Homo sapiens: one gene and its partners. The protein of the gene in region 6 purifies or fractionates together with the protein of the main gene of each other region. This does not show direct contact. Each region holds a gene or a part of one and is shown on either strand. Other genes may lie near its edges.

Region 1 (4,318 bases), on a different chromosome or scaffold from region 6:
TGAAGATGATTGTGAAAGAGCACTCCATGTCCCTAGAGAACAAAGCTCATGGCAGAAGAACTAAGGATCACTTGGCTCAAGCTTTGAGGGGACCCCTACACCTCAACAGCACTGCCACGTTCCAAAGCACAGAAATCCCCACTGCAAGGAGAAGACCGAGGAACACAGCGACAAAGGACTCGTCCCAAATCTAGACTGGCCCCAGCACAGAGCTGGGACTCACATGTGGGCCTGCCCAACTCAGTCCATGGTTCTTCCCACCTCAGCAGAGTGCTGGGAAGAAGGTACCGACCTGAGCTGAGCAGTGTTGACCTGGTGACAGGTGGTTTCCAACGGTGGCCTCACTGAATACTCCCCCACCCTATGGGGCAGAACTACTGTCCTCGCTTTGCAAATGAGGACCTGAGGCAGCTGGTTCCAGGTCACATGGCCAGTGAGTGGCCCCAGGGCATCAGGACTCTTAGGGTCCCACTGGGATGCCTTTTCCTTACTTTCCCCTGTAGACTCTGAGAAGGTATGGTGTCAGTTTGACCAGGTAGCAATCAGCCCTGGCCTTTGCTCTTCCCCATCACCATGAGGGGACGGAGGAAGAGGAGGTGCTATGCCAACTTTCTCCTAGTCCCTTTAGACCCAGAGCAGGTCTGTGAAGTCCGCAGGGCTTGGAGAATTTCCAAGGACCTGACTCCTTGGGATGAGCTGCAGAGCCTGGCAAAGGAGGAGTTGCAGGCCCGGGTCAGCCACCAGCTATGCTGCCTGGAGCAAGCCCCTCACCCTGCTCTGGCGGAGCCTGCTCTGTGCCAGGCCTAGGAGATATGGAGATGGACAATACCAGCTCAGGAGGGGAAGTGCTATGAGACATTTGCGGCTCTTCTTACTATGAATGATTTGCCACCTCCATGCATAGGATTTGGTCTGGCCTAATGGAAAGAAAGAGGAGGGACTGGTTGAGCATCTCCTCTGCCCCCGAGACTGTGCTAAGTACAATACAGTTTAGGTAGCGTTATCATCCTTATTTTACAGATGAGAAAACTGGGGTGCTTTTTATAAAGTTGCTATTGAACCCGGGACCAACTAGTTAGTCTGAGTCCTTTGGAACTCACGTCTCCAGTTAGAGATGAGGAATCGAAAGCTTAGGGTTCTAGTCTAATGCAGGTCACATAGGAGAATGGAGATCTGAACTGTGCTCAATCAATAATTCCATGTTCTCTGACCTAGGACACAGGGGATCTGGGTTCTAGTTCTGTCCTTTTGACCGACCACAGTACTCAACCCATCGAAACCTACTTCTGCAATTTTCTCACCTGTCAATAGGGTTAGCTACCTGCCCTGTGACTGTTCAGGGCCAAAGGCTGCTGAGGAGGAGAGATGCCAATGCAGAGAGTTCTGCCTTTCTCTAGACCTATGCAGAGCATTGCTCCCCACCCCACTGCTGCTCCAAGAGTCTAACCTAAATATTCCACAGCTGCCTTAACAGGACCACAGCTGGCACTGTCTCTCTCCAGGTTCCCCTCAGTGCTCTTTTTCTCTACGAGTGACACGAAACCCTCAACCAGAACCCCACAGACATCCACCACTCTGCCAGGTTGACCTCCTTACAATCTTTCAAAACCATCCCTTCTCCCCCACAGTCCTGACCCACTGCCCACCTGGGGGACTGCTGCAGCCCCCAAAGAGGTCTTCCCGGCCTCCTGGCCCCTCCAAGCTCAGCCATGGGATCTTGTAATACACGCATGGACCCCGCCGGTCCCTGCTGCTCGTCCTGGAGTCCTGTCCACAAGGCTCCTTGCAACCTGGTTCCTGCTTCTCCCTCTCACTCATCTCTCAGAGGAAAACCCTTTGCACGTCCTAAGCATGTCCCTGAGCACTCAGTTCTCTCTCACCCCTGGGAGCACACCAGCAAGTCCACAGGGCCATCTGCCAGAATCCTATTCCTGCCCCTTCGCTGACAAATTCCTAGTCATTCTTCAAGACCCAGTCAGTCTTGAACCACCTCTCAGGCCTCCTAGGATGCACTCAGCACATCGTCCTGCAGCTAAGCTCTGTGTCTCCCCTATTAAGCCCACGACCCTCACTGGCAAAGACTGTCTCGTTCATCTCTGTCCCCAGGACCTGGCGTAAGGGGCAAAGAACAGGAACTCAGTGCCTGCTCAGTGGCTGCGCTCCTCTCTTTTGCAGTCCAAACACTGGCAGTCTCACAGAGTCTATTTTCAGAAGGTTCCCAGGGGTGGCTAAGGAGAACTCCTACTTGGCAATAATCTCTGTCCTGTGCTTCTCAGAAATGCCCCAGAAATGTTGGACTTTGACAGGAGAGCCGCACAAGGCAGGCTGGCACCTCCAGAGAAAAAGTGCTGCAGTCAGCAGTTCTCTTAAGACAGGGAAACTGACACACAGACAGCGCAGGCTTGGCCAGGGCCATGTTGCCAACAGGCACTAATGGAAACTCAGCTACCGCCTGCTCCTCTAAATGCAGCGGGAGGGAGTGCTGAGGGTTTAAACCAGGAGACAGAGCTGCTCCCAAACAATCTCCAAAGTGGCTAGATCAGAACTGGGACTGACCTTACAAAAGTTACTTAACCTCACCAACCCTGAGTCTCGGCATCTGCCTTGAGAAGTATTTCTCAAATCCATGCCCTCCTCTGGATCCCCAGCGTCCTAGCCACCTTTCCTGTCTGACTAGTGAGTCAGCCTCCCCCTCACTGGTGGAGCAGCCACCAGCGAGCCATTCTTGCACACAGATGTGACAGGCCAATCCTCTGCCCTGAGCCTGCCACCTACAGTCTTTCATGAAGTACTCCCTGACCCCCAATCCCTCCCACCTTAATTCACTGTTTGCAGCCTTTACCCCACAGGGACTGGTTTTGGTTTCTCACATACAAAAACTTATTTCCTGCCTTTGTGCCTCTGTCCATGCTCTTCCCTGAGGGACTGCCACTCCCCGCTCCATGTGACGACGTCTGCTTTCATTTCACACTCAGCGAGGTGGTCACTTTGTCTAAGACGCCCACCTTGCCGGGACAGAGTGACGGCCACCCAACTCCCACCCCAGTGCTCTGCATGTTCCCATCACTGCACATGCCACACGACTGTCTCCCAGTGAGACGACAGTCCCTGACACCAAAAGGCCGCTCTACAAAGGTGTGTTAAGTGAATACATTTGTCTATGTGAGTCAGAAAGGATGGAGTATGAAAAGAAGCCCACAGATAGGAGGCATGATTACAAACCATCTGGGCTCCAAAGTGGGTAATCCAGGGCAGAACTGGGAGCCCTCGGAGGCAGGAAGTGGTCAGGCATAGCGGCCACCCCCACACTCACTCACATTGATCAAAGATGACTTTTTCCTGGCGCTTGCTCAGCTGCAAAAGCTTCATGGTGTTTTGCAACTTCTTTTCTTGTTCAAACAATTTTTTATGTAGTTTGGTGACCTCTGCCTTCATTTCTCCAATCTAAAGAGAAGAGAAATTAGAAAAATGAACAAAGAACATAAACATCATGTTACACAGGAAGAATTACAAAGCCATATAAAAAGATGATGCTCAACCTCACTAGCAAAAATATTTGAATGGAAACTAGAAGCCTTTTCCTGACAACCAGGAAAAGGCAAAATTGGACAAAACTCATTGAGGGTAAGGGGAAAGCACCTCGTGACCTCTGGTGGAAGTGCGGGATGGCATGGCCCAGTGAGAACGCCCTGGCAAGATCTACCAAACTGAGATGCGCTTAACTCTTTGCCCCAGCAATTCTACACGCTGGCATTTCCCCCAAGGAATAATAACATAAGCACAAGAAGATGCCTATGTACAAGGATGTTCGTCTCAGCATTGTTCATGGTAGGAAAAAATAACCTGATTTCAGTATAGATCTGGATAAATTATGGTACTTACATATAATACAATAATTTAGCAACTATTAAAAATGACGTTGTAGAGCTCTATGCATTGATATCAAAAAATGATCACAGTTAGTGACAAAAGAGCCCAGAACAACACGTCCTGTATAAAAGGCATTCCTGTTCCACAAAACTGAATATAAACGCCCACATCCATAGATGTGTATATTGAGATGTCATCAAAATGTTAACAGCAATTCTCTCCATGAGCTATGATTTCAAATTGCGTGATCTTTTTCTTTTACAAAAACTATAATGCTGATTTTAAAAACTTTTCAATGTTTAAATCTTCAAAAGATCATATAAAAGTATTACTAGGAAAGTATGCTCCATTAGAAGAAACTCTTCTGGTTTTCCAGAGTAAACTCTGGATGGGTGGCAAAACCAGAGTCCCCAGTGCTCTGAGGTGACATACATGCACGGCGGAGCCC
Region 2 (4,422 bases), on a different chromosome or scaffold from region 6:
ACTGCAAGCTCTACCTCCCGGGTTCATGCCATTCTCCTGCCTTAGCCTCCCGAGTAGCTGGGACTACAGGCGCCCACCACCACACCCGGCTAATTTTTTGTATTTTTAGTAGAGATGGGGTTTCACCGTGTTAGCCAGGATGGTCTTGATCTCCTGACCTTGTGATCCACCCGCCTCGGCCTCCCAAAGTGCTGGGATTACAGGCATGAGCCACCGTGCCCAGCCAGCCTCTCCTTTTCTTTATTTGTATTTATTTATTTTTTTCAGCCTCTCCTTTTCTCGGCTCACTGCAACCTCTGCCTCCTGGGTTCAAGCAGTTCTCTTGCCTCAGCCTCCCGGGTAGATGGAATTATAGGCATGTGCCACCACGCCTGGCTAATTTTCGTATTTTTTTTTAGTAGAGATGGTGTTTTACCATGTTGGTCAGGCTGGTCTCAAGCTCCTAACCTCAAGCAATCCACCCACCTCGGCCTCCCAAAGCGCTGGGATTACAGGCGTGAGCCACCGTGCCCGGCCGAGAGTACGTTTATATTTTTAAAGACAGATCTCTCCACTGTTTATTCTCTCCCAGAAAGATTATTTTCAAATGTATGGAACTAACTTTTGAAACCTTTTTCACTCATGTCTTGTAACATTAGGAGTAGCAGTTATTAGTGAGGCTTCTAATGACTAAAGGGCAAGTTTAGCACCACATGATATCAAGGGACTTGTTAGTTGGCCCAGAAATTGGCAAGTCACTCTTTCCCCAGGGGTCCTGGACCCAACCAGAAGGGGATATTGGGTAGCTGATTTTAAAACTACAGTAATATATGATAGTAATAATGGTGCAAGAAAAATATCTTAGAATTCTGGGGACACATATCACTTCTTAGGGTTAGATCTGTGTGGCCCCTTCTGGGCCATAACTATAAATCTTTTCTCCAGAGTTCTATGGAAGTCACTCATCTAATTGCACTTAATATTACCTCCTTCATACTTGATTTATATATAGTCTTTATTTTATAATTGTATGGTTGGTCTAGGAAGTTCTTAGCCATATAATTTATTTGTTTTCTTTGTGCAGAGTCTTTGCCTCCCTTTTTCAGCTTAACAATATTTATTAAACATTTTCCAAGTAAATACTACAAATGTTAGCTGACCCTCTGCCTCAATTCAGTGCTTAGATGACATTATTTGATAGGTTTTCTCAATCACCCAAATTTGACAAAATTAAAAGATATCCTGTCAGTACTAACTTTTCAAATATTGATTCATTCATTAAATGGTGGTCTGTATATATATAGGCATACTTCAGAGATATTGCAGGTTTGCTTCCAGACCACTGCAATAAAGTGAATATTACAATAAAGCAAGTCATGAATTTTTTGCTTTCCCGGTGCATATAAAGGTTATGTTGACCAGGCGCAGTGGCTCACACCTGTAATTCCAGCACACGCCTGGTGGGACAATCAGAACACAACGTTTATCAGTTACATTTGCTGTCTTATAGGGGTACAGTTTATGGTACCCCAAGACAATTACAATAGTAACATCAAAGATCATTGATCACAGTGTATAATGAAAAAGTTAGAAATACTGTAGTAGTTACCAACATGTGATGCAGAGACAGAAAGTGAGCACATGATATTTGAAAAAAGTCACTGATAGACGTGCTCAAGGTAGGGTTGCCACAAACCTTCAATTTGTAAAAATTTGGTATCTGTGACACATAGTAAGGTGAAGCACAATAAAATAAGCTATGCCTGAATTGATACATTTCTACTTACCAAGTTACAATTTTTGCTTGAATTAAAAGAAAAGAGGCATGTTGCTCTCACAAAATTAGTTGAAATTGGTATGCTAGCTCTTCTTTCCAAAAGAATGTCAGTAGACCTATAAGTATTTACTAATGTATTTCTGTTATACTTCCTCAGCCCTATCCTACCAAAAGGAGATTAGATCAGGATTTTTTTTCTTTTTATAAATATTTCCAATCTATACTACATTCTTAATTTCCCTATTTCTTGACAAGAACAACATCTTTCACAAGTTCTTCTGATACAATAGGATGTAAGTCATCTCAGATCTTCAAAGTTAAGTACTTCCAGCCCAAGGGCTAATCTTGATGACTACTTGGTCTCAGCCTTTTTGACTGGTAACCTAAACTTGTTTGAAATTTATTTTCTTAAAATATACCTGTAGGTTTTTAAAAATTTATTTTGTTTGGAGTGCTGAAATCTTATTAACTGTCATTTTCCTCTTTTGAATTCTTCTGACTTCTATTTCATTAAACTATTAAATAGTTCTGGCTGGGTGCGGTGGCTCATCTCAGCACTTTGGGAGGCCAAGGTGGGTGGATCACTTGAGGTCAGGAGTTCGAGACCAGCCTGGCCAACATGGTGAAACCCTGTCTTTACTGAAATACAAACATTAGCTAGGCGTGGTAGCAGGTGCCTGTAATCCCAGCTACTTGGGAGGCTGAGGCAGGTGAATCGCTTGAACCCAGGAGGCGGAGGTTGCAGTGAGCCAAGATCACGCCATTGCACTCCAGCCTGGGCCACGAGAGTGAAACTATATCTCAAAAAAAGAAAAAAAGAAATTCTGTGTTTTCACTGGGCTTGAAAAAAGAGAAATTATTATATTTATTGTAATATAATAAATTATTGTATTATTGTATTGATTTATCTATGTAGAGTATAAAAAATGGAGAATGGGGCCGGGCGCGGTGGCTCACGCCTGTAATCTCAGCACTTTGGGAGGCCACGGGGGGCGGATCACCTGAGGTCAGGAGTTCCAGACCAGCCTGGCCAACATGGCGAAACCCCATCTCTACTAAAAATACAAAAATTAGCTGGGTGTGGTGGCTCACACCTATAATCCCAGCTACTCCGGAGGCTGAGGCAGGAGAATCACTTGAACCCAGGAGGCAGAGGTTGCAGTGAGCCAAGATGTTGCCACTGTACTCCAACCTGGGTGACAGAATGAGACTCCGTCTCAAAAAAAAAAAAAAAAAAAAAGAATGGAGAATGGAAATGTAAATTTTAATGTGAATGTTTAGCTACCAAAGTATTTAAGATATCATTTAGAAAGGTTTACAGAAGTGGAAATATTCTTTTTAAAGACCTATTTGTTTATTTCTGAAACCAGAATGTACTCAAGACTGATCTTCTAAGTTCACTGGAAATGATTTTATCCCCAACTGTGGTGTCTATACTGAAAATCAATAGTCAACTAAAGCATATTTTCAAGACTTCATTGACAGTGGCCGATAAGGTAACAAATGCTATGTTCTTAATATCTCAAAATTGATGTGTTGTTTAAGAAGGAAACTCATTTTTGTTTCTTCAAAGATAGAAGATCAAAAAAAGGAACTAGATGGCTTTCTCAGTATACTGTGTAACAATCTACATGAACTACAAGAAAATACCATTTGTTCCTTGGTTGAGTCACAAAAGCAATGTGGAAACCTAACTGAAGACCTGAAGACAATAAAGCAGACCCATTCCCAGGTATGTTGTTTAGCGGACTTGGGGAGTACAGAAAGAGAGTTTTAGGATGATTTGATATGACTTGATAATTAATCTATGTTACACAATCTGAATACTGTAAAAGCTGAAACCTGAAAATACCATAGCCACTGTTGCTTATAACAGTAATTATTGTAGAACAATTGAGAATACTTCTCTTAATATTTGAAGTTTTGCTACATCTAGAACCCCATGCAGAACCACAATATGACAAAACAGTCCTTTTCTCACATCAAGATGAAAGATGAATCTGGAAAAACATACCTTTAGAGAAGAATGGTTATAACATTTAAAGTGAAAATGTATCTACATTAAAACCTGCTAAGTTGTTTCTAGGATGGCATGGATAGTTGTCTTTCATAAACCAAGTCCTACTTTCTCTTATTTCTGTCTCACTGATAGACATTTAAAACATAGTAAATCGATACAACTTTTAATTCTTATTGATTATAAATGTAATTCATGATTTATCTTCCCTGTAAACTGTTCCTCATTATATGAGGCTTTAAACCAAAACCAAGCCTTCAAACCATAATCTGTAAATATCAGATATCTGAAAAACAGCTTCTGGTATTCTTAAGACTTTAATAATGACTGTCTAAAGTTTTATTAAATGAGCTTATTATAATATGACAGAACTCTTATAATAGTTAACATTTATTGAGCAATTCACTGTGTTTATTCCTCCCATCAATATAGATATAAATTCTATTACTAGTCAGATTTTTAATGAGGAAACTGAGACCCTGTGAGCATCTAATAGTATGTAGATCATCTTGCAGAAGGTGGTAGTGATCATACTACCTGAAAAGCATCCATGTTTGAGTGGCTCTTTTGTGTGTTTTTTGGCAACTTAAAACTGCAGCATTTTCTCATACATCTACATAGGGTATTTCCCTTAAACCCGTTGAGAACT
Region 3 (4,422 bases), on a different chromosome or scaffold from region 6:
CACATGCAGTCTGCTAACCAAATAAGGCTCTGACATGCCAAAACAATTTTCTCTGTATCTTGCTATATAGTACATTCCACAAAATACTACAGCATTTAATTTAGGTTTACACAACTAAATATAAATGGCTAGATTTTGGCTAACACTTAGCAGAAGCATTAAGCAAACATGGATAAATTCATAAAACAAATGATGAAAAAAGCAGATTGTTCTTGGAGTACTTCTTTAAACACTTAACCTTAAAACACCTGGTCCTTAGTGAGAGAACGTCCTTTATTCAGTAGATCTTAACAGTACAAGGTATAGTAAGTCCTAAAACCTTTAAAAAATTTTGGCAGTTGAATCCAGTAGTGCTCCTTGATTCAAGGAATGAAGGTTTGTATTTCTTGCCTGCTCTATTCACGAAGGACTGTTAAAAGTCTCCTTAAAGATTTTTAAAAATGATTCCTATAGTTGCTAGGTGTCTTGTTACTTCAGAAATAAAGGCTTCATACTGAGAAACTGAAGGACACTTTTCTCTCTGTATTTAGTTGGAAGGTAGAAAGAAGAAAGAAAATATAAGAAAAGCTTAAAGATAAGAGAGACACAAAATACAGAGCAGCCACTATAAGAACAGCATGCACCAGGTATTTCTATAAGAATGAGAATGACAGACAATCAGAGATAATTTTTGAGTGGCTCATCATAGAATAGGCATTTAGTCATTAATTTTCAAGAAAACTGTGGGGAAGTTGTATTCCTACCACAAAAGGCTTCAAACTAAAAAAGTAATTCCTAGAACATAATTCACTAGTAAAATTAAATTTAAAGTGACAAAAAAACTTAAAAAAAAATACTTGTTCCTTGCGCTGACAGGTAAAAACCTATGGCAGCCAACTAATCTTGCTTCACTAGTAAGTAGAACAGAAAGTCAATGAATTAAGCAAGCAATATTTACATCTGTTAATGCAATGTGCACTTGTTTCACACTTAATTTGGTTAGTTTGTATAAATGAGACTAATCTCATTTACATTTTAAGCAGGAAACTCACCACTTGGCCCACATGTCATGTAGTGGGTAATAGAATTAGGAGCTTTGTTGCTCCCTAGACCTGCTTTTTGAATTTCTGCTTTCTTGTACTTTGTCCACATCTGCAGGAGAAAAGCATTTCATGTTATTTAGTCAAAGATGAAACAAAATACAATTCAGAAGATAAGAAATACACTCTCACTGAGTAGGGCAAGGAGAAGGAATCTGTAACTGTCTGGGAAAATTATTAATCTCATAGGCATCTCAATACTTAAAGATCGATTTTTATATTTTAAAGCTATAAGTAATATTCCTAGGAAAGCTATAATTTTTAAAAAAACTATAACAATTACATTTCCCCCCCTCTTAGTGCCAGATAGCCTTACTATGTTTATTTACTAAATGGTCACCTACAGTCTTAAACATAATCTTGCATGTAGTAGCAAAACCATCTGGAATGAAGTATTTGTATTATTTACTAAGAAAACCAGGGCTTGATGCATATTTTATAGGCAAATAATGTTCCTCCTTACATTGGTTAAAGCTAAAATTGCTTTGGTCAAAGGGGATGCAGTGCATAAGAATATGTTTATAATTTCTAGAAAGCTAGGCCAGGAATACTGAAAGCTATCCAGCTTCATCATTTATAAAATTAGGGTACTGAATCTTCGAATAGTTTTACAAATAATCCTTTTGAAAACTGGAGGTGTCTTAGAGGAAATAAGTGCAATTGCTCAATTGAGTCAGAGTTGTTTCACTTTTACTTTAAATGAAATTCATTTTTTAAAATTTGGGGCATCTATGTAAGATTTCACTTACAGAAAGTATTGTTTTTTTTCTTAAATGTTTGGGACACATCGGTTCCATATGATTTCTAAGGTATTTTCACCACTAAAAATTTGATTCCAAATGCTATGAAAAAACGTTGATAAGAACTAGTGTTGTGGCCAGTCGCAGTGGCTCACGCCTGTAATCCCAGCACTTTGGGAAGCTGGTCAGGAGTTGGAGACTAGCTTGGCCAACATGGTGAAACACCGTCTCTACTAAAAATACAAAAATTTGCTGGGCGTGGTGGCATGCTCCTGTAATCCCAGCTGCTTGGGAGGCTGAGGCAGGAGAATTGCCTGAATCCAGGAGGCAGAGGTTTCAGTGAGATGATATCACGCCACTGTACTCCAGCCTAGGCTACAGAGTGAGATTCCATCTCAAACAAACAAACAAAAAGAACTAGTGGTGTTTTGGGGGGAATTTTATGACTCCACAGCAGGTGATGATTTCTGAAGTCCAGACTGTATTTTCCAACAGTCCTCAGGACACATGGACATGATACATATTTCTCTTATATGCACAGTGTATTTTTTTTTTTTTTGGAAACATGCTGCATATAAACATATAGCTTTTTGGGTAGGAAATAGTTCTTTTCTGTAAGTCTAATTTTGTAAAATAATCACATAATTTTAATATAATAGCATGTGATTTTTCAATGAATTTTGAATGAATAAATACAATATTTTGAAGTGTTATGGTCAGAATTATGATATCTAAAAAGTTGAAATAGCTGTGAAATAATCTTTGACTCAGTGTGGAAAAGAAATAACACTAATTATAACATTTGTGTCATATACTGCCCCCATTTAATCTCAGCTATGTTTACTATTAAGTTTTGTTACTGGCCTATGAAAAAACAAAAGGGAAAATATTAGCACCAAATATATTTGAAATGTCAGGACTGACTGGGAAGTAACTGACAATAAAATAGAAGGATGCAAAAAGTATATTAGGTGGTACTAAAATATGACAATCCTCTGATTGTGTTCATTTGATTACCTGTACCAGAACCATTTTTTTTTTTTTTTGTAATAGCTATCGGAAAAAAAGTGTGATTACAAAGGAGACAAATTTCATTAGGAAATATTCTCTACAGATTTTTTCTTTGGTCCAGTTAATAACCACTTAATACAACAACAACAACAACAAGTATAACATAATTTCATCCCCACATGGTCACATTTGAAGGCATTCCTTCCAGGTGCCAGGCTGAGTCCTTATCAGCTATAGGCTAAATCCAAATGGCAAAAAACATTCCAGAGAGAATGCCAATGTGTATTTCTCTGGAAGTAAATGGATCAGGGTTATGGGTTTTTTTGTTTTTAGCAATCTGGGAGTTAGAGATTCAAATTTAGCTAATTTGCTTTAAAAGTGCTGTGAACACAAAAATAAAAGTTCTTTGCACTGGAGTCAAAGTTAACAAATATTTTCTTACTTTTTTTTTTTTTTTTAAGCTAAAGAGTGTATTTATTCTTAGTTCTAAAATTTGTTCTACTAGAAACATACTTGTTTAAATGGTTACAAGTTCTAATTTTACATTTTAGTGTGATTATTCATTTAAAAAAAATTCTGTTTTAAGGATATACATGTATAATTTAATAATAGATTAATTATAGAAGTAACAATTTTTACCACTTTGTAAACTTGCTACCCTTTTTGATTAGAAGTAAAAATACAAATTTCCAACACAATGAATATAATTTGGTTTATTTCTCTTTGACTCTCTATAAAAAAAGAACTGGAAAAACTATTGTATTAACTGATTTCAAGTATAGAAGCCATCTTGAAGAAAAGACAGTTACTTGAGCTCTTGTATTTATCAGATGATGAAAAGTGCAGAGAAGAAACAATAAATACAAATGTTCCTAGTCACTGTGTAAATCACATTTAAATTTGATGGGGTTTTCTAAGAATAACACTAAGTTTATAAGTATTAACAATCTTTTAAATCTGAAAAATGTTTTATAAATATGGGTATTAGTTAATATTTGTTATATAAAGTGTTGAATTATTAACTATTTCTTTAAAACAGGACAGATGGCCTAATTAAATGACAAAAGAAAACAACATCTTTTTACATTTTCCCTACTGATACTGTACATATGTAATATAAAGTACACATTCTGGAAGAAAAAAAGGAGTGACAGTCAGAGCAAGTGAGGGGTGGGAAGAGGAGGAAGGGAGGGAGGAAATGAACATTTTTTTCCAGAAGCAACAAAGCAAATATGACTTGGAAATGTCTTCTTGGTAAGAGAGCATGCAACTGTTTTAACATGCTTCTGGATATCAAAGTAACAATCTTATCAGGCAACAAAAAATGTGAAGGAGGAGCATGTATGGTTAAGGTTTTTAAAGGCATGCAGAAAATGGACAAAGTAATTAATATTTCATGCAGGTTTTGGTGTGGTTACACATTCACATTAATATACATGCCATCATGTACAGCTGAACACTGTGCAACAATTTTAAATAAAAAATAAAAACCTAGCCAAATGATATTTTGTTAACAGCAACTTTTCAAATCATATTAGAGAAGCAGTGTATATCAAATAACATCAATATATTATATTGTGCAGTTTTGATCA
Region 4 (4,422 bases), on a different chromosome or scaffold from region 6:
GAAACTATAAAGAAGCAAATATCTTAATAGATATTAAGACATACTAAAATCATTTTATACGATTGACTGTTGTTTTGAAAAACAAAATAGTATCTGATAGCTGTAGTAGTTTTAGATTTTGTAAGTCAAATAACAGGTCTGTACCCAAGAAAGGAACTTAGCTTCCTTATTTGCAAAAAGGGGGATAACATCACTTTTATTCTGCTGTTCACCTATTAGGTATTATTCTGTTTTATTTTTCTAGTGTTTGTGTTAGGGTTTACAAGATAACTTATTACAGGTTTTCTTCAAATAACATCACTTCATGTTTAATGTAGAAATCTATGACAGTCTTTTTTTGTCTCCATCTCCCCTGCCACATTTTTTATCCTATTTTGTCATACATTTTATCAATATGTCTGTCTTAAACCCTCTAATTAATTGTTACTATTTTTAAACAGTTATATTTTAACTGTTTAAAAGGGATTGAAAAATGAAGAATAACTTCTGTTACCCTCATATTTACCATTTCAGATGTTCTTTATTCCTTCGTGTAAGATTCAGATTTCCATCTGGTATTGTTTTACTTTGCCTGAAGAATTTCTTTCCATAGTTACTCTAGTGGTGGTCAACTGGTGGTGAATTTTCACGGCCCTTATTCATGTGAATAAATTTATTTTGCCTTAATTTTTGAAATACATTTTCATTGAGTATATCTGGGTTGATGCTTTTTTTTTTTTCTTCTTCTTAGTACTTTGAAGATAGTGCTCCATTGTCTTGTTTTCCGGTTCATATAGATGTGAAGTCTGTTGTCCTTGGTTCCTCTGTATATAATGTGTACTTTTTTTCTGGTCAATTAATATTTTTTCTTTATCACTGGTTTTCAGCCATTTGGTTATGATTTGCCTTGGCTTTCTTTATGTTTATTCTTAGGGTTTGCTGAGCTTCCTTGGTACTGTCAGTTTACGGTTTTCATCAAATTTGGGAAGTTCTCTGCTATTTTGTCTTCAAATTTTTTTTTCTTCTGCACCCACTTCCCCAGTGCACGCACGTGCACACCCACACACACACACACACACTCTCTCTCTCTCACTCACTCACTCGCTTACTCACTATGTCTCTTCGTGGAACTCCAGTTATTCACCTTTTATGGTGCTTAAAAAGTCACTTACACTCTACGTTTGTTTTTAAGTTTTGTCTCTCCATGTTTCATTTTGGATAGCTTCTATTACATTGTCTACAAGTTCACTGAGCTTTTCTTCTCTAGTTTAATCTGTTAATTGTATCCAGTATGGTTTTCGTTTCAGTATATTTAATTTTCATCTCTAAAAGTTCAATTTTGGTGTCTTTTGTATCTTCTCCTTCTCTCCTTATGGTGATGTTTTCCTCTCACTTCTTGAGTATATGGAACATATTTGTACTATAGTTTTACAATCCTTTTCTGTTCCTGCCATCATCACTGTCATTTCTAGGTCTTCATTTATTGCCTTTTTTTCTCTTGGTTATGGTTCATATTTTTCTCTTCCTTTGCATGCTTGGTAATTTTTATTGTATGCCAGCCATTGAGTTTATACTGTTGCTTGCTTGATTTATTATATTACTGAAGTGTGTTGGATTTAGTTGGGGTGCACAGTTACTTGGAATCTGTTGGGTTGTTTCAGGGCTTGCTTTTAGAATTTATTAGTGTGGGTCCAGAACAGTTTTTAACGTAGTGCTGAATTATTGTCTCTACTAAGGCTGCTTCTACTAAGGCTGCTACTTCTTCTGAGGAGTCTATCATTACCTGATACATTACAAGGTTTTTCTATTCTGGTGGAATATATTATGGTTTATCTCTAGGGCTCTCACTTACTTTCAGCTCTCCCTCCAGCTTAATACCCTGTAAATTCTAGCCATCTTGGTCTCTCCAAACTGATCTGTGTTTAAAACTCAGTGAAACCACCAGACTGCTTGGCTTTCCTGTCCCTGTATTGTGACCTGGAAGTAGCTGGCAGCCAGTGTTTCCCTTCTCTCAGGGATCACAATCCCGTGTTCCCTGTTGTCTGATGTTTAAAACCAATGTTTCATATATATTCTGTCCTGTTTTCTTGTAGTTATATTCAACAGAATATTAATTTTTAACACTTGGCCATTTGGCATTTGGTCAAAATGTGTATTTGGAGTGTTTACTCTAAATGTGATCTCAGATACTATAAAGTAGAAATTATTGGAAACACAAATGTATTTTCACAAACTCATTAAATGTAGACATACTCATTTAAATATTTGAAGGCATACTTTGCTCTTTATTCTGTTTTATATTTTTCAGCCTACATCATGCTTTGAACTTTGTTCTTTAAATATGTTACTTTTTATTTATTAGTTCAGCAGATGTTTGAATGCCTACTATGTAAAAATACATAAAACACTTTTGTCCTCATGGAACTTACAACAGGAGGGAAGTATGCAAACAGTGGCACCAGAGGATTAAATTATAAACCACTTAGAGAGCACAAAGGAGGTGGTTACTATTTGGGCAAGGAGGGATAAAGGAGAGATATGAGCCAAGCCTATTTTAGGGAGGGAAGTTTTTGAACTGGTGCGTGAATAGTAAGTAGCAGTTCAGCTGGTGGAAGAGAGAGGGTAGATTTGAGAGAAGTTTAGGAGAATGACAAGTCAGGATTTGGCAATTTACTAGGCGAGGTAGTCTGTAGGAATTGAGGGGAAGACCAGTTTCCAGCTTGGCCTACTGGTTGGGTTTGGTTTAATGGCTCTTACTGAGATAGAGAATACAGGAGGAGATCGTTTAGGGAGAAAGTTTTATTTACCTTTTGAACATACAAATTTTGGAGTAACTGGGATATTTAGTTGGAAGTGTCTAATAGGAAATTAGATATACAGAACTGAAGAATAAATTAGGGAGTTATTTGCATAGTTAAAACCAGAGGTAAGGATAAAATGTCCTTGAAAAACTAAATAAAATGAGACAAGAGGATAAGGATGAAGACTAAGAAATATTAGTATTTGAGTAACAAGTTATGAAATAATTTAGGAAAGGAAACTTACATACAGAGAGACAAGTTTTTCTCAACCAGAAATTACATGTGGCAGTTGTTAAAAGTACAGATTCCTATGTTCCATGTAGACCTGTTGAATTTGGATCTTCTGGTGGGGGAGTTGTGTGTGTTAGAAATAAGCTGATGTGTACAGGTACTGAGGTTTGAGAACTAGTGCAGTAGGAAGAGAGTCAAGATATGGCAATATTGTTGACAGGCGCTTCACAGACTGGCATAGTTAATTCTCCTGATACAAAAAAGGTCAAGTAATAGGTGATGTCAACTTGAACATTTCTTAGGTCAGAGGAGATAAGGAAAGACTTGGAGAATATATATTTTTTAATTATAAAAGAATTTATGTTCATTCAGAAAAGTACAAAACTCAACATACATAGACACAAAATGAAACACCCATGATTGTATCTACCCAGATGAAACCAATGTCTGTACTCATCTAGTGTATGTCTTCTTTTATATTACATATATAGATACACACATGTAGTTATACAGATTTTTCACAAAATGGGATAATGCTAATATGCCAGAACCTGTCTTATTTTACTTAATGATCTACCATCTTCTCATATTGTAGATAGATGACATTTTATAAAATTTAAAAGTCCCACTTGCATGGGTGACCACTGGCATCAGTTTAGTGTACCTCCTTCAAGTCATTTCCTGTGGATGCACAAATATTTACATATGTGTGTCAGAGTTGTGTCTGTATATAATTTTTTCTTTCTTTTTTTTTTTTTTTTGAGACTCTGTGGCCCAGGTTGGAGTGCAGTGGTACAATCTTGGCTCACTGCAACCTCCGTCTCTTGGGTTCAAGCAATTCTTGTGCCTCAGCCTCCCGAGTGGCCGGGATTACAGGCATATACCACCACACCCAGCTAATTTTTGTATTTTTAGTAGAGTCTGGGTTTTGCCATGTTGCCCAGGCTGTTCTTGAACTCCTGGCCTCAAGTGATCTTCCTGCCTTGGCCTCCCAAAGTGCTGGGAGCCACTGTGCTAGGCCAGTCTTTTTTTTTTTTTTTTTTTTTTAAATTACAAGTGAGAGCATCCTATTAACACCATTCTGCAACTTGCTCTTTCACGCCAGTATGGATCACTCTAACTCATTATTTCCAATAGCTGAGTAATAATCATGTGAATTTATTTGAATTGATGAACTTCTAGATTATTTTCAGTTTTTTCATTTTATTTCAGTGAATAGTCTTTCACATATCTTTGTGAATTTTGTGCAAGTATATATGTAGGATAAATTTTAAGAAGTGAAATAGCAGGACTAAAGGATATGTGTATTTATTTAAAGTGCCCTATATCTCTGTTCTCTGTATTCTTTATAATTGTTTCTGTAATTGCTTTCATTTGTTTACTTTTGCATTCTGTGATTTTTCTTAAAATC
Region 5 (4,422 bases), on a different chromosome or scaffold from region 6:
TTTTTCAGGGCTTGGAGGGAAAACATGTCCTTTTTATTGCTAATGTAATGATTTATCCATCTATAGCACACAGGATCCCTAATGATCTGGATAACTTAGCTAACACTTCATGGGCTCAAGTATTTTTCCAGAATTGCTCCCCTATTTTCCTTGAACATAGGCAGGGAGAAGCCAGGCCTGCTTGGGAGCCAAGAGGACAGGGAGGAGTAACCAGTTCAGGACAAAGAACCATAACCCTCAAGCAAGAGAACAAGGAGAAGAATAGTGCTAGAGTATGGGGTGAAATGTCAGTTTTTAATTCCATAGGAATGGACAATAAAAACAAAAATTTTATGTTTAAATGGTTTTACCTGAAATTATATGACTAGAGCATGTTTCTCTTTAAGGATTATTTTAAAGGACATCTAATCACCTCCCACAAGGTGTCTCCCCAAACACGTGAGGATTACAGTCTGGATTACAATTCAAGATGAGATTGAGGATTACAATCTGGATTACAATTCAAGATGAGATTATGGGTGGGGTCACAGCCAAACCATATCAGTGGCACACACCTGTAGTCAGTCCCAGCTATTCAGGAGGCTGAGGCAAGAAGTTCGCTTCAGCATGGGAGGTCTAGGCTGCAGTGAGCCATGATCGCACCACTGCACTACAGCCTGGGTGACAGAGCAAGACCCGTTTCAAAAATAAAAAAAAAAAGAAATATTATATACAAACAACTCCTGGAGGAAGGTGATACAACAATTAAACTTGGGCTACAAAGTCCTGTTACCTGGAAAGCTACACTTTCGCTGGCAAAACTGCCCAGTTGCTAACCCCCTGGGTCATAACCCCACCTAAAGGTCTCTCTATAAGAAGCCCTGCCCAAGTGGCCATATAAAATCATCTCTGTGGCTGGGCATGGTGGCTCATGCCTGTAATCCCAGCACTTTGGGAGGCTGAGGCGGTTGAATCACCTGAAGTCAGGAGTTCAGGACCAGCCTGGCCAACATGGTGAAACCCCGTCTCTACTAAAAATACAAAAAAATTAGCCGGGCATGGTGGTGGGTGCCTGTAATCCCAGCTACTCGGGAGGCTGAGGCATGAGAATCACGTGAAAGGCGGGGGTTGCAGTGAGCCAAGATCGCACCACTACACTCCAACCGTGCACCACAGCGAGACCCCATCTCAAAAAAAATAATAATAATAATAATAAAATCATCTCTGCCCCAAAGCTATTTCCTCAGATGCAAACATTTTCCTTGACCATAGCCAATTAACCTCTCAACATCTAATCCACCTCCCTTTGGAACTGGCTGATACCTTGAGAAACCTTTCTTCTCCACAGAGGGTCTGCCAGTTCAGATGCTGAAAAGTTTTTCTATCTGGAGAAACCCATAAGCCATACTATTAGACCTATGCCCCAAAGAGCTAAGCTAAGTTAAACACACAGTGTTTACAAATGAGCAGCTGAAAAGGCACACAAGCTTAAGTTGCAGAAGACACACACTTGATTTTCCTTGCTATGGAGGGCCCTTTAGAACATTCCCTACAAAGTTATTTTAGAATGTGAAGAGACAGCTGGGAGCGGTGGCTTGAGCCTCTAATCCCAGTACTTTGGGAGGCCAAGGCGGGCAGATTGCTTGAGCCCAGGAGTTTGAGACTAGCCTGGGCAACATAGTGAAGCCCTGGTCTCTACAAAAAATAGAAAAAAAATTAGCCGGGTTTGGTGGCATGCGCCTAGACCCAGCTACTGGGAGGCTAAGGTGGGAGGGATGGCTTGAGCCTGGGAGGCAGGGGTTGCATTGAGCTATGATCGTGTCACCACTGCACTCCAGCCTGGGCTACAGAGCCAGACCCTGTCTCAAAAAAAAAAGAATGTGAAGAGACAGAGAACTGAATGCAAAGACCCTAACTCAATAAAACTTTGTTTTCTTCACATGCAAAACAATCAGAAATGCTCTTTGTTTTGTAATCTGGCCACCAGCCACTAGGCCCATATAGGGGTGGAGGAGCCTAGACCTGCTAATCTCGGCGCATGTGAGTGGGGTTATTGCTGTCCTCTCAACAAGAACCCAGTTTTGAGAGACAGGACTTGCTGGATTTCCTAGGCTGACTAAGAATTCCTAAGCCTAGCTGGGGAAGGTGACTACACCTACCTTTAAATACAGGGCTTATAACTCAGCTCACACCCAACCAATCAGGTAGTAAAGAGGGCTCACTGAAATACAAATTAGGCTAAAAGCAGGAGGTAAAGAAATAGTCAAATCATATATCGCCCGAGAGCACAGGGGGAGGGAAAATGATCGGGATATAAATCCAGGCATTCGAGCCGGGAGGGGCAACCTCGTCTGGGTCCCTCCCATTGTATGGGAGCTCTGTTTTCACTCTATTAAATCTTGCAACTGCACACTCTTCTGGTCTGTGTTTGTTACGGCTCGAGCTGAGCTTTCGCTCACCGTCCACCACTGCTGTTTGCCACCGTTGCAGACCCATCGCTGACTTCCACCCCTCCAGATATGGCAGGGTGTCCGCTGCGTTTCTGATATAGCAAGGCGCCCATTGCCGCTCCCAATCGGGCTAAAGGCTCGCCATTGTTCCTGCATGGCTAAGTGCCCGGGTTCGTCCTAATCCAGCTGAACACTAGTTGCTGGGTTCCACGGTTCTCTTCCATGACCCACGGCTTCTAATAGAGCTATAACACTCACCATGTGGCCCAAGGTTCCATTCCTTGGAATCCGTGAGGCCAAGAACCCCAGGTCAGAGAACAAAAGGCTTGCTGCCATCTTGGGAGCGGCCCACCACTATCTTGGGAGCTCTGAGAACAAAGACCTGTCCGTTAACAGTTTCCCTATACTGATCCAGCTCCTGGAGTATCTGCTCCCTGACATGTCTCTATGTCCAGTCCCCTTGTCAAGATGCATGTAGATGCATTAGACACAACAGATGTCTTTTGATTCTCCATCAAAATCAATAAAACATAAAACATTTGGATAACATAAAAATTGCAGGTGACCTGAATGCCAGTATTGAAAACAGGTCCATTTAAAGCCCAAGTCATGGCAGAGTAGGCTAGGAGGATTCCTTCCTTTTGGCTTCACTTTCAGGGATGGTCATTTTAATTAAGGTGGGGATCATTTTAAAATCACATATAAACACAAACAATATTATTAAATAGTGATTTCTGACATAAATTAGGGAAAAATGTGGTTCACATTTCAGTCAAACAATATTTAATAATTAGCTTTTCCCTGCTTAGCGCCATTTATAAGACAGGCATTTAAGAGTCAAAAAAACAAACAATGTTGCTTTACTCTTAATAGCCAAAAACTGGAAACAACCCCAGCACTTTGGGAGGCCGAGGCGGTTGGATCACCTGAAGTCAGGAGTTTGAGACCAGCCTGGCCAACATGGTGAAACCCATCTCTACTAAAAATACAAAAATTAGCCAGGCATGGTGGCAGGCACCTGTAATCCCATCTACTCTGGAGGCAAAGGCAGGAGAATCATGTGAACCAGGGAGGCGGAAGTTGCAGTGAGCCGAGATCATGCCACAGCACTCCAGCCTGGATGACAGAGTGAGACTCCATCTCAAAAAAAAAAAAAAAAACAAAACAAAAGTTTAGGCCAGGCACGGTGGCTCACACCTGTAATCCTAGCACTTTGGGAGGCCGAGGTGGGCAGATCACTTGAGGTCAGGAGTTCGAGATTAGCCCTGCCATCATGGTGGAACACCATCTCTACTAAAAATACAAAAATTAGCCAGGTGTGGTGACGGGTTCCTGTAATCCTAGCTACTTAGGAGGCTGAGGCAGGAAAATCGCTTGAACTCAGGAGATGGAGGTTGCAGTGAGCCAAGATCAAGCCACTGCACTCCAGCCTGGATGAAAAAGCAAGACTCTGACTCAAAACAAACAAACAAACAAAAAAACCCACCAATCTGTGATATATTCATACAAAGGACTCAATAATAGAAAAGAACAAACTACTACATGTATGAATTTATACATGTATGAATCTCAAAAACATGCTGAGGAAAAGCCAGGCATAAAAGAGTAGCAACAGTGTGATTTCACTTATATCAAGTTCTAAAATAGGCAAAACTAACATATGGTGGAAAACATCAAGACAGTGGTTGCCTCTGGAGGTGGAAAATGCCTGGGAAAGGGCGTGAGGGCACTTTCTGGGGTGATAATAGTATTCTATATCCTGATAGGGGTTTGGGTTACACACGTGTATGCACTTGTCAAAATTCACCAAATGTACACTTAAGATTTGTGCATTTCTTTGTATGAAAATTTTACTTTAAAAGAAAAAAACTAAACAAATATTGAAATCCACTTAATAGTTTATATGCTGAAGTGTTTAGGGGGAAGTACCCTGATGTCTGCAATTTACTTTGAAATGTATCCTAAAAAAAGAAGATGGATTGATGGAATAGAT
Region 6 (4,422 bases):
GGGTATTTGCCTTCCCCCAGGCAGACTGGGCTTTGGTAAAAAAGTTTCTCTTGACTGCAGGCCTTGCTAAGAAAAACAGAATGCTCTGGCATATTTAATGGTTACTTTCCACCCCTCTCTTCTGCTGGAAGCATGAGAAGATTTTTTCCAATATTCACTGGGAGAACCTGGTAGAGCTCCTGGAGGTAAAACTCACAAAATTATGGGGGACCATGGAGTTCTTAACTCTGACACTTGTCCACTCTGAGTCTCCAGTAATTTGTCAACTACAGGTCAGGTTTTCCTACTACCCTCGCACTGGTTCCTGAAGAGGTTTCTGCACCAGTTAAGTTGTGATTCTCTCTATCTGCCTATCTCCAATTATGGGGGCAGAGATTTGCCCTGTGACCTCGATTCTCTGCTATATACAAGAAAAGTTGTTTTCTCAGGTTGTTCAGTTTTTAATTTGTTATTAGCGTGAAGTGGTAACCTTAAGCTTCTTACATGGCATATTATTATTTTGAGACAGAGTTTCATTCTGTCAGCTGGAGTGCAATGTGGCATGTTCATGGCTCACTGCAGCTTTGACCTCCTAAGCTCAATTGATCCTCCCACCTCAGCCTCCTTAGCTGGGACTATAGGCGTGCACTACCATGCCTGGATAATTTTTTTTTTTTTTTTTCTGGTAGAGACAGGATTTTGCCATGTTGCTCAGGCTGGTCTCGAGCTCCTGGGCTCTGCCCGTTTCAGCATCCCAAAGTGCTGGGATTACAGGTGTGAGCAACCATGCCCAGCCACATACCAGATTCTTGTAGGATTTTTAGTATGAGTTTTTGTCTTGAGGGGCAAAGGAAATTTAAGACTACCATTCCTAGATTTCCTACCTGTTAAAAGTTTGAGAATCACTATTCTAGCAAAATTATATGCAACAAGCACTATAAAGAAGTTGTGACAATTTATAAATTAATTTTAATTTAAAATCTCAGTGTGTACAGATCAATAGTACACACGGAGCAGCTCATGTTTTAGCACACTAGAAGGCAGAAAGGGAGTCGTTTTTTGTTTTCCAAAATCAGATTATGAAGAACAAAATTACTTTAAAATTAGTAATTCAAAATTTGGCATACGTATCACTCTACTTTTTTTTTCCACCTCACAAAATCTTTCTTTTTTTTTTTTAAGTTCCGGGGTACATGTGCAGGATGTGCAGGTTTGTTACATAGGTGAACATGTGCCATGGTGGTTTGCTACACGTATCAACCCATCACCTAGGTATTAAGTCCAGTATGCATTAGCCATTTTTCCTAATGCTCTCCCTACTTCCACCCCACTCTACTTTTTATTTGAAGGTACAGAGTTTCAAGTAGTTCTAAAATGCACAAATGAGTTACCCATGGAACATTTTCTAACTCCTACCTCAAAAACCAGATTATTCCAAAGTATTCGTTATACCTTTGCAGTATGTTTGAAATATTTCATAATAAATGTAACTGCATGAGGTTAAAGGATTTCATACCATTTGATGTTTTAAAACAGGCATTTCAAAAGGAGGTCCTTTTGCTTACAGCTCCAAACTCACTGGACATTTACAGCTTAGAGTATGGTTAAAGTATGGAGACTAAAATGCTTGTTCCTATTAATATATACTTACTTAGGAAAACCAGTCAACTTTTCCTTTAGATATGTAGATGTGATTTGACTACAATGAAGAAAAGTATTTCAAGAAATACTAAATTTGTTCTTTGAATAAGGGAGTGCTAAACAGCTATTACTTTTCTACAGAATCAAAATTTAGTAAAATTAATTTTTCTCATTGCATTATAATTGGGCTAAAAATTAATCAACAAAATATGGCTCATTTAAAATTTGCCTGGGTTTTTCTTTCTTTATATAGAAGTAGGGGAATATTTAAATGTTTATTTGAATATGTGTATGTTCAGCAAATGCTAAAAATTTTATCTTTCTGAGTGACATGAACAAATGACTGCCTGTTGGAAGATGCACTAAACAAAAGCGAGCCTATAGTCTGGTGTTTGCAACTGTCTGAACCATTCAGGAAGAAATCTGGCTGAAACTTCTAGTGAGTTTAATTCATGTCTACCCAGAAAGGCAGCTGCTTGGAGATAAGGCTTTAATGTTTCTCTTGTCCAAGTTTGAATTCACTTTTATCAAAACTAAAAAAATTCTATGGTAGCACACAGTTGTTTTAATATTTTTAAAATTAACCTAGGCTTTTTTTCTCAAATGAAAAATTTTAGCCCATTCATAATGTTCTCTTTTGAAAATAAAATTTCATTCTTCTAGGAAAACAAATTGGAAATAGGAGGTTTTAAAAAGGTCATGCTATACAAACTAGTCATTTCATGTACACAAAGAGTCTAAGGTAATAATTTGAAAATGTTGTTAAAGATTTATGTGAGAAATATGCTTTGTATGTTCATAGGGTGCAATATTTTGCAGACTCTAAAGTCATGCTTTAGTGAATATCTAAAGACCAGGAAAACGTTCATGGTATATGTTGCAGAAAAGCATTGAATAATTAACCATAAAGTGTGGTCCGAATTTTGGAAAATAAAAATCCACATGTGGACATCTGAAACAAAATACATCAAAATAATGGGTTGTATTATTTCTGCTACCAAACTTTCTATACTTTTCAGATTTTCCATGAGGATGTATTTTCATTTAGGTCAAGAAAAATGTACTTTTACTCACTGATGACTATATACCTCCTCTCTTAGAATTGCTCACACAAACCACAACCAAACTGAATAAACTTTGGTCTCAAACGTACTTTTTCTATTCTATATTATTTACCTTCAGCATATATCACAAGGCAGGAAAAATAAATTGTTGCCTACTTCCCCTTCAAAAGTGTTTATGTCTTAACTCTTAGATTGATTCCAGGTCACTTGGGAATGATTTCAACATAGTGTGTACGTGTGTGTGTGTGTGTGTGTGTGTTTGTATGTATGTATGTACATACGTACATACATGTGTTTAAGGGCTGGTAATGTCTCCCTTTAGAATAATTTATTGTTTTTAAAACTCTCTCAAATACATATGTACACACACACACACACACACACTTATTTTGCCTAAGTTACACTTCTTTTTCATCTATATAAGAATATAGATACTTGTGCTTCTAAGCAAAGAGCATTACCTATTACATAAGGTTCTCAGATAACTGACATGGCAGGCTCACTCATTAAGGGAAATTCCTCCCTTCCATTATACATGGTAGTGGCAAAAGCTTAGCCAGCAGATGGTTATGGTTCTCTTGATCATAAAGAAATGTTCCCTAGTTTCAATGAGGTAGACTGGTCTATAAGGAAAATAGACCAGAAGATCCATGTTTTGATACTAGAAATAATGCATGTAACATTCAAAGAAGGATCTTGAGGGCAGGAACCAAGACATCTAAAAATTTAAAAGAGAACCCACAGGGTTCGGCCTATAGTAGAAACTGAAGAAATATTTAAAGAATGAATTACATTTTTATTAAGCAATTCTATTTTTCCATTGTCTTGAAGTACAAAGTGTTGGTGTGGCAAAAGCCTTTGATATCAAAAAAATTGTGGAAATGATTATGCTCCCCTGATATTCTATAAATAGTTCACTCCTTTTTCATGGATATTTACAATATTAATTGGCAGAAGTAGGAATTATCTTGTGGGTACATGCTACTGTATGGCATTTTTGACCCAGCAACCATGTCCTAGTCATGCTGTGTTCCTGGGCTCCTAATTCAGTGGTGTTTACCTCATGAACCAAAGAATGCCCCAAATGAATAGTATACCTTAGAAATCCTTTCAGCACAAGGCTTACAGTGTCTCATTCTTTCAAATATGATCTTATAATTTGCAAAGTTCATTTATAAGAAATTTATATATTAAAATATTCCTAAGAACAATTATACTAGGTAATTTCACAGTAGGTATTCAGGGTCTTAGAATAAAGTGGGACCTTGAAAATAAGTAACTTAAATTTTAGCTGAGTATTCTCAAGCTACTTTTATCAACTGTTTAGAATGAGAGGTATATGTGGCAGAATATTAACTAGAGCCAAGCTATGACAATTTGGCAGAGACTCTACCTCAGACTGTACGTCTAAACAAGTATTTAAGTAGTAACCTTGAATACTGTTTCCAAAAGCTTAACAAGGTGGTTTTATTTCCTTCAATGAGAATGTTTTCCATCAATAAAAAAGTTAACCCACATCTTGTACATAGAATACATTCACTTTGAACTCCATCAGTGGATAGGACAAAGCAATGTCCTTTAATAAATCCAACTACTTCCAAGTATAAAATAAATACAAATTTGTAAAAATTTTTAAAATAGAGATTATACATATAAGGAGATAGAAGAAGTAACATCCTGTGAATATATGCAGTACTTTAACCAAATACTGGTCATCAGATATATGATGCTCATATGG
Region 7 (4,422 bases), on a different chromosome or scaffold from region 6:
GGGACAAACACAAACATTTTAATGTAAAGTTAATGCAATCAATTAACATTATTACAAAAATATAAATAGGATATCGAACTACTTAGGACATGGTTAAAGTACGTAAAATATATAGTGATATGGGTAGTTTCCCAGTCAGGGCAAAAATTGTGAACATGGTATTCAAATAACAGAGGTTTGGGAAACATTGCATTAGGCACAAACTTAATGTGGCATGCATAAAACCACAAAAACCTGAGTCAGAACTTACGGCTATTACTAAAAACACAGACTAAAACCAAGGACCATGAAACAGATTGCCACAGTCTTAAGATATTTTCTTTCTCACTAGTTGTTATCAAAGATTTACCTTCTTTGTAACTAGCTTGTTTACTGTATGTGACTGATTCTGGGACTGTAGTATTTCCACATCATAAATCACAATAAATCAAAATAATGGGGCAGACTTACTGTGACTTTCTGAAAGTCATCAAAAAATGTTTGTTGGGGGGTTGAATTCACCCCACCAAATCTGTCAAAAAATGCCTGAGATGGACAACAACTTCTGATTCAGAAGATTATTATTTCCCCAGATAGAGGAGTACTGGAAGAGAATAATGCTAACTTGAACATCATAGGAAGACCAATTTTATTTGACATGGATTTTACTTGAAATAACTCTTAGTAAGAAATGAGCCTATTATTCACAAATTACATTAAATTTATAAAAAAGTTCAAGCTGCCCCAAAGAAATTCAATGCATGAAAATGTTATCAGAAAAGCATTCAACAACTATAATTTACTTTTTACTAATATTACTGCCACAACAGGGTAGTCAAATAAGATCTCACTCACATTTTCTTTGGCCTGTCGATGTCCCTCTCCCATACTTCTTAAACTTGCCAAATACAGTTTTTCCAAGTTCTGTATTTTCTGAGTTTGTGATTCTTCCCATTCTGCCCTTAGCTCCTCTGCCAAACGTGTAAATTGTTGATTTCTCCTCTGTTTTATGTCTTCTCTTATCTGTAAGGCGATATCTCTTTCTTGTTCTCGAACCTAAAGAATGCATATTTAACAGGTTATATGAAAGGAGGTTTACTTAAACTTTTTTGAAAAGCTATTTGGAAAGAGGAACTCAAATGAATTCTCTTAAGTCTGTCAACTCTCTTTGATACTCATCTTGTATTAGATAAAGACTATTTAAAGCAGAAAATCTGAGTGAATGTACAAAAAGTAAAAATCTCAAGACTATATCTAATGTCTCCAAACTGATAGCTTTTATTCAGCGCCCACTCCCAAAAGGACTGCCATTATCACTCTAATAACCTATAAAAGCTAAAGCGATAAATATGATTCAACAAAATCTATAGCCCAGAGTACAGACAGAGCCAGATGAGAACTCCATTTCTGTTGTACATCATTTCTGATTCTAGACAGAATGGTGCCTGAAACATACTTCACAAAAACTTACTTTAAAAACACTTCTAGAAAAGGGTTATCTGCAATTTCCTGATAAATTTGTTTCAGCAGCTAATAATCTTTCCAATTAGCATTCTTCAAAGTCATCTAAGCTTCCTGTTACCAATTACAGACCATTTTTAAAAAAGATAAAGAGCTATTTTCAATATTCGAGTCAAATAATACCTATCTTCCAACTCTTCTACAATGTACTTAACCATCTCAGCCTATTTTTCAAGTGTTCCAAAACTAGTTAATACCAAATAACCAGGGCTCTCGTATACCCAGAAGAGGTTTTTAAATACAACATTTAGAACACTCTAATGTAAAAGAATACAAGTAATTTGAGGAAGAAAGGAATTTAAAACTTTATTACAAATAAGTCATACCTGTAGCAATCTTAGTTTTCGCCTTCTTTCATAATCTTCCTTCAAAATGAAGGCTTCCTCATTAGGACTCAATCTCAGCTTGTGAGTATTCACGACTTTTCTCTTCATTTCTGTGTACTTTATGTATGACAGTTCTGAATTCAAAAAGGAAAATGTCTATAAAAATAATGTAACATTAAAATAGGGCAGCAAAGATTAGAATAATTTTGTTTGTTTTTTTTTGAGACAGAGTCTTGCTCTGTCACCCAGGCTGGAGGGCAGTGGTGCGATCTCAGCTTACTGTAACCTCTGCTTCCCGTGTTCAAGCGATTCTCATGCCTCAGCCTCCAGGGTAGCTGGGATTACAGGTGCATGCCACCACGCCCAGCTAACTTATGTATTTTTAGTAGAGATGGGGTTTCACCATGTTGGCCAGGCTGGTCTCGAACTCTTGGCCTCAAGTGATCCACCTACCTCAGCTTTCCAAAGTGCTGGGATTACAGGCATGAGCCACCATGCCTGCTCAGAAAATTTTTAAAATTCGTGTTAATACTTTTGATATTTAAAGGGTTATATACATGCAAGGAAAATTTGAGTAAACGAAGTCCAACTTATTTACAAATAGCAATTATAAATTCACACTTAGATCAGTGATACTCAGAAGGGTGGGAAAGTGGAAATGAAGACTGAATCAGAATTACTCAGAAAAGTTTTCTCCTGTTTATAGCAGATTGTCTACCTCGAGTATCTGGACCTGACTTATTCCTGGTTAGCATTTCCAGAGTTTACTGAGCTTAAATGTGAAAAAGCACAAAGACCTAAAAAGATGTTAGCATAGAATAAATGTTTTCAAAACTATAATCTGACACTTTAGAACCTTCATAACTTGTTCATAACTAGCAAGGTTGCTGTAATTTCAAGGGTTCTTTGTTCCTAGATTCAACTCCCAGTCTACTGCATATAACTTGATCACCAAGTGTCATTGTTACCTCATGAAATCACATCAATCCCATGTTCTATAATCTACAGTAAACAATTCTTCAATAATTATAGTGACGTAATTTTTATATGAATGACTTGCTCGGCTGTATCAAGCGTTTAGTTTTCCAGATCTATTCTTCTTTTTTTTGAGATGGAGTCTCGTTCTGTCGCCCAGGTTGGAGTGCAATGACACAATCTTGGCTTACCACAACCTCCGTCTCCTGAGTTCAAGTGATTCTCCTGCCTCAGCCTCCTGAGTAGCTGGGATTACAGGCATGCGCCATCACACCCAGCTAATTTTTGCATTTTTAGTAGAGACAGGGGTTCACCATGTTGGCCAGACTGGCCTCGAACTCCTGACCTCAAGTGATCCACCTGCCTCAGCCTCCCCAGTTGCTGGGATTAAAGGTGTGAGCCACCACGCCCGGCCCAGATCTATTCTTCTGTTGCTACCGTTCACACTGTGTTCTCTCTCTCCTCCCTAGATTATAACATGCTCCTATTTGGGGGAACGAGGCAAAAAGAAATGGAATAAATATAAGAATCTATAGTTCTATAATTTGAATACCCTCCTCAGGTAATTCTGATATTAACTGGCTCCTATTACTGCCATTTCCAAAAAATTAGACACTTTACATGAGTACATGAGCATTTTATCTGAGACAATCAACATTTCTCAGGTCTCCCTCACAATGACCAGGCAGACAATCTCAGTTACTGAATATTTACATCTTTCTAAAGCTGGCTTAAGCCCTCCTTCCTCTACGAAGCTGTCCTCTGATAATTCCTGTTGCAATTTCCCACTCCTGATTTGCCCAACTCTAATACATTATTACCTATACATTCAGATGGGGACTAATTTTATGTTGTCTTGGTATTACCTCCTGTAGTTTTTCATCAATTACAGTTTGCTCTTTCTAGTTAGATTCCTAACAATTGAAGGACAATGGCTATGGGTTTTTTAATAAAAATTTTAATATTCAATTAAATTTAATAAATAACTACCAGGTAATATTTCACATACTATGGATGCACAATGTTTTCAACCAGGTGTAAACAGAATAGGGGCTAGGAGACTGTGGGATTACCTAACAGGGACTAATACCTTTCCAGTGACTTCTCCATCAGAATGTAAGCTCATCAGGGCAGAATGGACTTATTCACCATTTTATGTCCATAGCCTGAAAACAGTGTCTCGCCCATAGGTAGTTACTTCAGTAAGTGTGTTGACTGAATGAATGACTCAATGAGTTAATTTATGTGAAGTGCTACAGAGCTATACACAATCATCACAACCTTCAATAAGACTCTAACACCAAAAAGGACTAACTGCTGGCATTAAAAAAATCTTTTAATGCATCCTACTCATCTAATATTCACACGGCTTTGGTAATGGTAACTAAAGTACTGATTATATTTTTCATGCTATACATGAAGAAACAAGGCCTCTTGGGTTAAAGGACTTTCCCTGAGTGACAACATCTAGTGGCGGAGCCAAGGGAAGAATCTGGTTTCCTTATTCCAAATGGCTCCTAACTTTCCAACACACAAAAATATGTGGAGTGGCGAAAATTTTATTTAAGCTGTTGTTTTTTGAGAGTGAGAATTTAAAAAACAGAAAATTTAACAAAGAAGA

The links.
Region 1: the proteins of MLF1 (region 6) and CDK5RAP2 purify together in Homo sapiens (affinity purification with mass spectrometry; 3 studies listed by BioGRID and IntAct, with this or other methods). This does not show direct contact.
Region 2: the proteins of MLF1 (region 6) and KIF11 purify together in Homo sapiens (affinity purification with mass spectrometry; 3 studies listed by BioGRID and IntAct, with this or other methods). This does not show direct contact.
Region 3: the proteins of MLF1 (region 6) and CCDC88A purify together in Homo sapiens (affinity purification with mass spectrometry; 3 studies listed by BioGRID and IntAct, with this or other methods). This does not show direct contact.
Region 4: the proteins of MLF1 (region 6) and AKAP11 purify together in Homo sapiens (affinity purification with mass spectrometry; 3 studies listed by BioGRID and IntAct, with this or other methods). This does not show direct contact.
Region 5: the proteins of MLF1 (region 6) and ERCC6L purify together in Homo sapiens (affinity purification with mass spectrometry; 3 studies listed by BioGRID and IntAct, with this or other methods). This does not show direct contact.
Region 7: the proteins of MLF1 (region 6) and CEP295 purify together in Homo sapiens (affinity purification with mass spectrometry; 2 studies listed by BioGRID and IntAct, with this or other methods). This does not show direct contact.

The regions. Positions count from the first base shown.
Region 1 is NC_000009.12:120,391,195-120,395,512, forward strand, and holds part of CDK5RAP2 (CDK5 regulatory subunit-associated protein 2), read right to left. Parts: intron 3,445-4,318; coding exon 3,318-3,444; intron 1-3,317. UniProt on the Homo sapiens protein: Potential regulator of CDK5 activity via its interaction with CDK5R1. Negative regulator of centriole disengagement (licensing) which maintains centriole engagement and cohesion. Involved in regulation of mitotic spindle orientation.
Region 2 is NC_000010.11:92,634,058-92,638,479, forward strand, and holds part of KIF11 (kinesin-like protein KIF11), read left to right. Parts: intron 1-3,126; coding exon 3,127-3,252; intron 3,253-3,329; coding exon 3,330-3,488; intron 3,489-4,422. UniProt on the Homo sapiens protein: Motor protein required for establishing a bipolar spindle and thus contributing to chromosome congression during mitosis. Required in non-mitotic cells for transport of secretory proteins from the Golgi complex to the cell surface.
Region 3 is NC_000002.12:55,290,645-55,295,066, forward strand, and holds part of CCDC88A (girdin), read right to left. Parts: intron 1,132-4,422; coding exon 1,067-1,131; 3' UTR 1,032-1,066; intron 521-1,031; 3' UTR 1-520. UniProt on the Homo sapiens protein: Bifunctional modulator of guanine nucleotide-binding proteins (G proteins). Acts as a non-receptor guanine nucleotide exchange factor which binds to and activates guanine nucleotide-binding protein G(i) alpha subunits.
Region 4 is NC_000013.11:42,278,225-42,282,646, forward strand, and holds part of AKAP11 (A-kinase anchor protein 11), read left to right. Parts: intron 1-4,422. UniProt on the Homo sapiens protein: Binds to type II regulatory subunits of protein kinase A and anchors/targets them.
Region 5 is NC_000023.11:72,211,101-72,215,522, forward strand, and holds part of ERCC6L (DNA excision repair protein ERCC-6-like), read right to left. Parts: intron 1-4,422. UniProt on the Homo sapiens protein: DNA helicase that acts as a tension sensor that associates with catenated DNA which is stretched under tension until it is resolved during anaphase. Functions as ATP-dependent DNA translocase. Can promote Holliday junction branch migration (in vitro).
Region 6 is NC_000003.12:158,577,027-158,581,448, reverse strand, and holds part of MLF1 (myeloid leukemia factor 1), read right to left. Parts: intron 1-4,422. UniProt on the Homo sapiens protein: Involved in lineage commitment of primary hemopoietic progenitors by restricting erythroid formation and enhancing myeloid formation.
Region 7 is NC_000011.10:93,664,220-93,668,641, reverse strand, and holds part of CEP295 (centrosomal protein of 295 kDa), read right to left. Parts: intron 1,961-4,422; 5' UTR 1,935-1,960; coding exon 1,827-1,934; intron 1,036-1,826; coding exon 835-1,035; intron 1-834. UniProt on the Homo sapiens protein: Centriole-enriched microtubule-binding protein involved in centriole biogenesis.